Linked DNA regions of Homo sapiens: region 2 is linked to region 1. Evidence: fine-mapped expression QTL. A gene starts in region 1. The other region holds a variant in brackets. All regions are shown on one strand. Distances are between the middles of the regions. Region 1 holds the start of MEAF6 (MYST/Esa1 associated factor 6). Region 2 overlaps RSPO1 (R-spondin 1).

Evidence for each region. PIP is the estimated chance that this variant, and not a neighbour inherited with it, causes the effect. A credible set is the group of variants that fine-mapping cannot tell apart.
Region 2: its variant is the best candidate, but not a certain one, in a credible set for the expression of MEAF6 in spleen (GTEx, PIP 0.56).

What each region holds. Positions count from the first base shown.
Region 1 is chr1:37,512,832-37,517,214 of GRCh38, reverse strand. MEAF6 (MYST/Esa1 associated factor 6) reads left to right here and starts at 2,449. Exons shown (of 7, transcript NM_001270875.3): 1 at 2,449-2,558; 2 at 3,677-3,792. The coding sequence starts at 2,469. RefSeq lists a silencer at 2,265-2,864.
Region 2 is chr1:37,627,242-37,631,624 of GRCh38, reverse strand. RSPO1 (R-spondin 1) reads left to right here. Exons shown (of 7, transcript NM_001242908.2): 3 at 1,676-2,057. The coding sequence starts at 1,964. Among named protein-coding and RNA genes, the nearest start is that of RSPO1, 5.5 kb to the left of the region's middle. RefSeq lists enhancers at 451-964, 866-1,035. The variant T/C (reference allele first, on the strand shown) is at 2,261.

The DNA of each region.
Region 1 (4,383 bases):
CAGGCTGGAGTGCAATGGCGCAATCTCGGCTCACTGCAACCTCCACTTCCCGGGTTCAAGCTATTTTCATGCCTCAGCCTCCTGAGTACAGGGATTACAGGTGCCTGTCACCACGCCCGGCTAATTTTTTATATTGTTAGTAGAGACGGGGTTTCACCATGTTAGTCAGGCTGGTCTCCAACTCCTGACCTCAGGTGATCCACCTGTCTTGGCCTCCCAAAATGCTGGGATTATAGGCGTGAGCCACCTCGCCCAGCCAGCTTTTTGTTTTGTTTTGTTTTGTTTTTGAGACAGAGTCTCACTCTCTCACCCAGGCTGGAGTGCAGTGGCGATCTCGGCTCACTGTATCCTCTGCCTCCCCGGTTCAAGCGATTCTCCTGCCTCAGCCTCCTGAGTAGACGGGATTATAGGCGCACACCACCACACCTGGCTAATTTTTTGTATTTTTAGTAGAGATGGGGTTTCACCATGTTGGTCAGGCTGGTCTTGAACTCCTGACCTCGTGATCCGCCCGCCTCGGCCTCCCAAAGTGGTGGGATTTAGCCACCGCACCCAGTGGCTTAAAAGTTTTTTTACTTGTTTGTTTTTTGGTTTACACTAGGAATATAGAGGTACTTCCTCACCTTGAAAAACAGCATCTACAAAACTCCCACAACTAATGTCATACTTAATGGTGAGAGACTGAATGCATTCGCCACCCCCCCTTTTTTTTTTTGAGACGGAGTCTCGCTCTTGCCCAGGCTGGAGTGCAGTGGCGGGATCTTGGCTCACTGCAAGCTCCGCCTCCCGGGTTCACGCCATTCTCCTGCCTCAGCCTTCCGAGTAGCTGCGACTACAGGCGCCCACCACCACGCCCGGCTAATTTTTTTTGTATTTTTTAATAAAGACGAGGTTTCACTGTGTTAGCCAGGATGGTCTTGATCTCCCGACCTTGTGATTCACCCGCCTCGGCCTCCCAAAGTGCTGGGATTACAGGCGTGAGCCACCGCGCCCGGCCTGCATTCCCCTTAAAACAGGGAACAAGGCAAGGATGTCTAATGTTATCACTTTTATTTAACAGACTACTGGAAATCTGCACAATAAGGAAGAAAAAGAAAAAGCACTCAGCTTAGAAAAAAAAAAACTCCCTATTTATTTGCAGATGAAATTATTATCTATGTAAAAATTCCAAGGAATCTATACAACCCCCCCTAAAATTAGTAAGGGAGTTCAGCAAGATGGCAGGTTACAAGATCCGCACACGAAACCAGTTATTCAGAATGCAGCACAGAGGGACAAAAAGATGGAAAATATAGACGGTAGGTTAAAAAGCTTCTTATGTTCGAGTTCCAGAAGGAGAGAGAAATGAGACAGGCATCTGAAGAAAAATGACTGCGATTTCCCAAAACTGGTGGAAGATACCAACCCACATATTATAGAAATCCAAAGACTTCCAAGCAAGAAACAAAACAAAAGGAAGAAAAAATATCCCACTTAGACTTATGATAGCGAAACTGCAGAACAGTGAAAGATGGAGAGCTGAGGACGGAGAAATCCACAGGGGCCAAGTGAAAACAACGTTTACACCTTGGACTTAACGATAAAAGCGAACTCGTACTTGCACAGTCATTGGCGCCTGCCAAACCCCTTACACATATTAGGTGATTTACTCCTCACAGCAAATGTATTAGGTAGATTCTATTACTGCTTGTATTTTACAGATGAGGGAGTTGAGATTTGGTTATTTGCCCAAAGGAGCACACTTTATCGATGTAGCGATAGGATTTTGAACAAGGTAGTTCTCGCTCCAGTTTTGTGCCCTTAACCACTACACATACTTGTTTCTCCAAAGGGCACTGGGAAAATGGGAAGCCACTGAAAGACTTTAAACCGGGGAGTGATAACATTTGTTTCTGGAAGATCCTGGCACCACTGTGGATAGTGGATTAAGTGGGGCTAAAGGTGGAAATAAGCCGCTGGAATAATGTAGCCCCAAACAGGGAGGGCCTGAATGAACTAGTGAGGTGGCAGAAGGCGCAGGCACAAGCAAATGGATTCGCGAGCTCTTCCGGAGTCGAGTCCATAGAGCTTGACCTGGGATCGCGTTTTACTCCAGGTGCAGAGTGAGGAAAACCGCGTTTCTGACGCAGGCAATTCGGTGGATAGTGAAAGTCATTCACTGAAGTGGACTGAAGCGGGGCGCACAGGAGACTCGGAGGCCTGAGGACGAGCTAGGCTTTGGACGCGGTGGATTTGTGGCGTCTGTAAAGCCGGCGGCCAGCCGAGGGGCAGGAAACGGCAGAAAGCAGAAGCCGCATCTCTAGAGCTCTCCGAGAAGGACCTTCGAGAGCCCCGGCCTTAGCGAAGCTCGGCACGGCGCTGCACGCGTCTCCGGAAGCCGCGCGCGCAGGCGCAGAGCGGGGGGGCGCCCCCTGGCGGCGCAGGGACCGCCCCCAACCTCGCGCCGCCGCCGCCCGCCTCAGCCCAACATGGCGATGCACAACAAGGCGGCGCCGCCGCAGATCCCGGACACCCGGCGGGAGCTGGCGGAGCTCGTGAAGCGGAAGCAGGAGCTGGCGGTGAGGGGCTAGGACAGGGGTTGCACGGCATGGGGCTCCGCGCCCGCCCCGCCTCCAGGCCCCAAGCCCGGCCGCGCTAGGCCGTTTGTTACTCCGGGGGCGCGGCGCGGCGGGCCGGGTGCTCGGCGGCCTGAGGCCGGGTGCGCATTCTGCGGCCCGCCGGCGGTTCAGCTTCCCGGCTGTGCGAATCCGGAGCCGGGAGAGAGCCGGGAGCGCGGGAGGGGGAGGGGAAGCGGCAGCCGCAGGAGGGGGCGTGGAGGGAGGACGGTGCCGGGGCCCGGGGAGAGGGCGCTAGGAAGGGCGAGCGTCAGTGAGCCGCGGGGGTGGGCGAGGCGGGCTAGTCCGTGATCTTTGCGGGGAGGGGGTGGGGAAGGAGGCTAGTGTGGGAGGGGGACCCAGTCACCCCGTCTGGACTTTGGAGGCTGGTGGGGAGCGTGTTCTTTTTGGTACTGGGAGTAGATCCGTTGAATGGAGGTTTTTGATAGACAGGGTTGTGATGTGTTTGGGAACATCTAGAAGGTGACAGGCGAGGGAGAAGAACACATTCCGGAGAATTCAGAATTGTGACAGGCACCCAAGGCCCAATGCACTCTGGTGGCTAAGCTCTTCCTGCCCCCGCGTCTCGGCTTGGGCACCCGGGAGGCCCCTCTCACCTGAAGCTGCCCTTCTAGGTTTCCATAGCAACTGGCAGCCCGGTGTCGGCGGCCTCTCTTGAGCCTGCGGGGAGGGGAGCGAGTTGACGCTGAAAGGCTGCTCACCTTTCCCTCTCCTGGTAGCGATACCTTTTGTGCGTGGGAGTGGACATCGCCCAAGTTCTGCGTTAGCCTGGGCTCTTGACTCATGGTTTCCGTGAATCCTCTAAAGTATATGCAAAATTTCGCGTGTGTGTGTATTTTTCTGGAGACATGCTTTATACATTCAGGGGTCCATCACCCCCAAAGGTCTAGACTGTCTTAGTCCTAAACGGCTCCTCCTCCCCGTATCTTCCATCTCTCCACAGGGTGGTTTAGTGTGGGCAAGCTTGCGTTTACGAGTCTAATATCAGGATTTCATTTTGGCCAGACTTAAGTGTTTGCATTTAAAAGGTATCATTCATGTCCTTGTTTTTCATCTCTCAGGAAACATTGGCAAATTTGGAGCGACAGATCTATGCTTTTGAGGGAAGCTACCTGGAAGACACTCAGATGTATGGCAATATTATTCGTGGCTGGGATCGGTATCTGACCAACCAAAAGTGAGTGTCGAAAGCCTGTAGTGTTCCTATTGTGCCCTAGTAACGTTTGTTTTTAGGACTGTATGCTCTTAGTGGCAACTTTGCTGGAGGCAGTAGTAAAGTAGTGGTGTGATCTGGACTTGAACTCTTGGACTCTGGCTCAGGCACTGCCTCACCGAATAATCTTAGACAAGGCTCACATCTGTAAAATAGCGAAAGTTGGGCCTATGGCACAGGGTTGTGTGAGGCTTAAATACAGTATCTTTATACAATAGCATTCTATTAAATTTTTTACACATTTTAATCAGTCATGAGTTCTACCCTCACAGTATTTTTCTTTTCTTTTTTTCTTTTTCCTCCTGAGTAGCTGGGATTACAGGTGCGTGCCACCATGCCTGGCTAATTTTTTTATTTTTAGTAGAGACGAGGTTTCTCCATGTTGGCCTGGCTGGTCTCGAACTCCTGACCTCAGGTGATCTGCTGCCTTGGCCTCCCAAAGTGTTGGGATTACAGGTGTGAGCCACCACGCCTGGCCACTTTTCTTTTTTCTAAGAGACAGGGTCTCACGCTGTTGTCCAGGCTGGAGTGCAGTAGCACGAACTTAGCTCACTG
Region 2 (4,383 bases), 110 kb before region 1:
GCAAGGTAACATAGCTAATAAGTAGCAGAACCAATATTCAAATCCAGGCAGTCTGACTCTGAAGTTTATGCCCGTGACTATCATGCTGTACAGCCAGCCTCTGAGACTACAGACTTGGGCCAGAAGACCCCAGTTTGATAAACTCAACTGGACATCTATAATCTGTGGGTGAGAGAATTGTGTAGTGGGGGCTGGGGAGGATAGAAAGGCTTTGGTAAATCAGGCAGGGAGTACTGGAGGGGCGTGCAGGGGTTGGCAGCTGACGGGCATTTGGGGGTAGCTGGGGGCATCTCCTCTGGCTCAGGCCACAGCACCAGGTGGGATCCATCAGCCTCATGTAAACACTTCTCACAGGCAGCTTAACCACTTGAGTGTGTCTGGCCTTCAAAGCCAGCGGGAGAGGCCAAGGAGGGAGGTACTGAACTCCCTTAGGGGATAATGATTTATCTCCCGTGCAGGTGGGCTCTGCTGGGGCCTCCCTGACAGGCGAGGGGGTGGACTGGCACTGAAGAGCCTAGAGGGGAAAGGATTAGGACAGGGGGTGGGAGGGGCACCTCCACTCCAGCACCTCAGATTTCTCATTCCTGAGCCTGAACTCTCTGACTCTCAGCTAGCCTGTGACATAGTCATGCTTGTCCCCATTTTATAGATGTGAAACAGGTTCAGTGAGGCTACATGACTTGTTCGAAGGCATCTAGCCACTGGAGGGGAAGGTGATGGCTCCCTGGCATCTACAGAGACTCTGTGCTATTGGCCTGCATGCTCTGTTGTGGTGTGGGTGTGTGTGGGGGAGTGTGGGGTGTGCGTGGGCAGGCCGCTGCTGTGGAAGAACCTTGAGAGCATCAGAGCATGTGTGTGATCCCGTGACGGGGAAGCAGGGTTTTCATTCTCACTCCCAGGTTGGGCTCAGATGTCCAACTTCCCAGACACATCTGATCAGGGGAGGGACCGGCTCCCCTGCCCCCATCACCCCAGCCGGCCAGCGGGTCCAGAGACCTGGCTCTCGCTGGGCTGGGGGATTATCCCCATTCTCTGTGTCTCTGGCCAGGGCGGGCATTGCTGCCTCTTTTATCCTCTCACAAAGGCCAGGCCCGCCGGGCCTGCTGTGTCAGAGTTTCTGTGGCCGGGGGAAGCCTTACTTCCTTTTCTCCCGCCAAGCCCAGAGGGCCAGGCAGGGTCTGCCAGCTTGCCGGGGGCCACTGCTCTAACTCCAGGACAGGTGAAAGGCACATGGGTGACTCAGCCCCGGGAAGAAAAGGCTGAGGGGTCACTCATGCAAGGACAGAGAGAGAGAGAGAGCTCCTCTTCAAGAGACAGGATACTACTGCAGCATGAGGTCTGTAGGGTAGACTTAAGGAAGGACTTCCAGTTAGAGCTGGACAACATGAAGCAGGGGTGGGACCAGCTGGCTCCCGTTATTGAGAAATCATCAGTGATCCACAAGTTTGGTTTGAATGTCTGCCATATTCTGGCTACACAGGTTGCCGGCTCCGGTCCCAGGTTAGGGAATTCTGTAAGACAGGAAAAGGAGCAGATTTCTTCTAGAAAGGTGCTAGGTAGGTAACTTGTAATGTCCAAACATTTTGAGCTCCCAGTCTTCTGGGTAGGGCAGGAGGCATAAGTGGGAGTGTTCATGGTACTACAGAATTAACCCTTCTTTCTCCTTCCCTGACAGGTTGGTTTTTGGAGTAGTCCCTGCTGACGTGACAAAAAGATCTCTCATATGATATTCCGAGGTATCTTTGAGGAAGTCTCTCTTTGAGGACCTCCCTTTGAGCTGATGGAGAACTGGGCTCCCCACACCCTCTCTGTCCCCAGCTGAGATTATGGTGGATTTGGGCTACGGCCCAGGCCTGGGCCTCCTGCTGCTGACCCAGCCCCAGAGGTGTTAGCAAGAGCCGTGTGCTATCCACCCTCCCCGAGACCACCCCTCCGACCAGGGGCCTGGAGCTGGCGCGTGACTATGCGGCTTGGGCTGTGTGTGGTGGCCCTGGTTCTGAGCTGGACGCACCTCACCATCAGCAGCCGGGGGATCAAGGGGAAAAGGCAGAGGCGGAGTGAGTAATGGAGCATGGTGGGCCACAGCTGGCCTTGGGAATGGGAGGGGGCCACCCAGGAACTAGGGGTCTTCAGGAGTTTTATTCCATGATGACCCTTGCAGAGTTCCACTCTATCTATTATAGCTTTGTAGATCACTCAGTAGATGATCCTGTTTGTGGATTATTCAATTGGTGGATTAATTTGCTGAGATTACCCACTC[T/C]GTAGATGACTCACTTTGTCTGTTTTCCCCTTTGTAGACTCTGCTTTCTAGATTAACCCCTCTCTTGTGAGGATCCAGTTTGTGGATTATGCCTTTGTGGATTATGTGCTTTGACATAACACCAGCTTTGTGTGGTATCCATGGAGATGCTTCCCCAATCCCCCTGCCCTGGGGCTCCTTTTTTGGCTAAAGTGCAGCCATCAACCCTTTTGGGTTAGGAGCTCTGCACAACTTAGCACTGGGTAACAGGGCTTCCCCTGCCCAGATCATAGGGCAGGAACAGTGGAGTAGGGAGGGTCAGGAGACTGTCCACTGCTGTGGCTTTTAAACCATGCCTAGTGGGATTCAGGGAGCTACAGTGGCATCGAAGGGGAGACAAGCAGGCAGGGGTCTGGCCCGACCACGCTTCAAACCAGAGCAGTCTCACTTTTCCCTGCTTTTGGTAATGAGCATCCACATAAGAAGTCGTTGGAAGAGAGGGTTCTCATAGCTTAAAAAGAAAACCAAAATCCTATCATTGTACAGATGCTAAGAAAGGGGAAGAAACAGGTCTAAGGAGATACAGTTGATGTTGGAACCCAGGTCTCCCAATGCCTGTGGGCCCAGTCTTCTTGAAAGCCGAATTTGATGGAGGTCAAGGGTAATCTGTCCCTAGCCCCTTGATAGGCACTCCTCAGCCTCTGCTTAAGGTCTCCAGTGATGGGGCCCCAGTGCTGTAGGGGTGGCCACTGTGTGTGAGGGGCCCACACGAGGGAGATGGTGGGGGACTCCAGAGTCCCAAGTCCTCATCTGTCTTTTGACATCCCGCATGAGAAGATGCCACACCCACAGGCAGGAGATCTTCCTGAAGTCTAGCCCAGCTCCCTCTTGCTTCATGTTTCCCTGCAGACGGAGGCCCCCCAGTGAAGGCTGAAAAGCAGTGGGGTTTTGCTGGGGCTCCACGGGAGCAGCCAAGGCCAGGACTCAGCCCAGGGAGAGAAGCTCAGAGAATTGGTGAAGCTGAAAATCCCTGGCTTAACAAACAATTAGAGACGGTTAGGTTTAATCAGCAGCAAGGCCTTGATTTTCCTCCCTTCTCATCTGTTGTGGCCAGTATTTTGGACTCCATGGGCCAGATGCGGTTTAGCGGTTTATAATCGGTCTCCTCTATTTCCGAAATGAGAGAGAGAGAGAGACAGAGAGAGAGAGAGAATGGGAGGAACCATTCACATTCATGCAATGTGTACATGTGCTTAACGCTGACCCTCACCCATGCAGAGCCTCATGCCTGGCTAAACCAGAGGTCACAGGACCTGAGTTCAAGTCTGTTGTATTAAAAAGGAAAGAAGTACTAGACTTGGCATCAGAAAGGGCCTGGTCCTAGCGATGGCGAATCTCCTGCACCAATTTTGACGTGCTTGCTCGCTTTTCATATGGCCACATCTAACAGCCGTGGCAGCACATGAGCCAGTTTTCATTACCAAGTGATGTGAGTAACAGACATCCTTGATGGTAAGAGGCAAGGGTGGGGAGAGGTGTGGAGACAGGCTCAGGGGTGCAGGGAGGGATGAAGGTTGTGCTGTTTGTCAATACTTGTTATGTAATAGCCATAGTCATCGCAATCAGGAAGCTGAAATGCAATGTATAGGAGGATAGTAAGGCTTACATGAGATAATAGGTATATATATATAGTTTTGTTTTGTTTTGTTTTGTTTTGTTTTGTTTTGTTTTGTTTTGTGATGGAGTCTTGCTCTGTCACCCAGGCTGGAGTGCTGTGTCACGATCTTGGCTTACTGCAACCTCCGCCTCCCGGGTTCAAGTGATTCTCCTGCCTCAGCCTCCCAAGTAGCTGGGATTACAGGCATGTGTCACCATGCCTGGCTAATTTTTGTATTTTTAGTAGAGACAAAGTTTTGTCATGTTGGCCAGGCTGGTCTTGAACTCTTGACCTCAGGTGATCCACCCACCTCAATAGATATATATTTTTAACACCTTTGTAAAACATCAAGTTCTGTGTAGACTCTGGGTGCAAATCATTGTTATATAAACAATGTGTAGACCATTTTGCCTTACTGATTCTGGGGGAGTAGGGAAGGGAAGAAGGAAGACCAAGACAGCTGTGTGTGCCTGGCCTCTCGATAAGA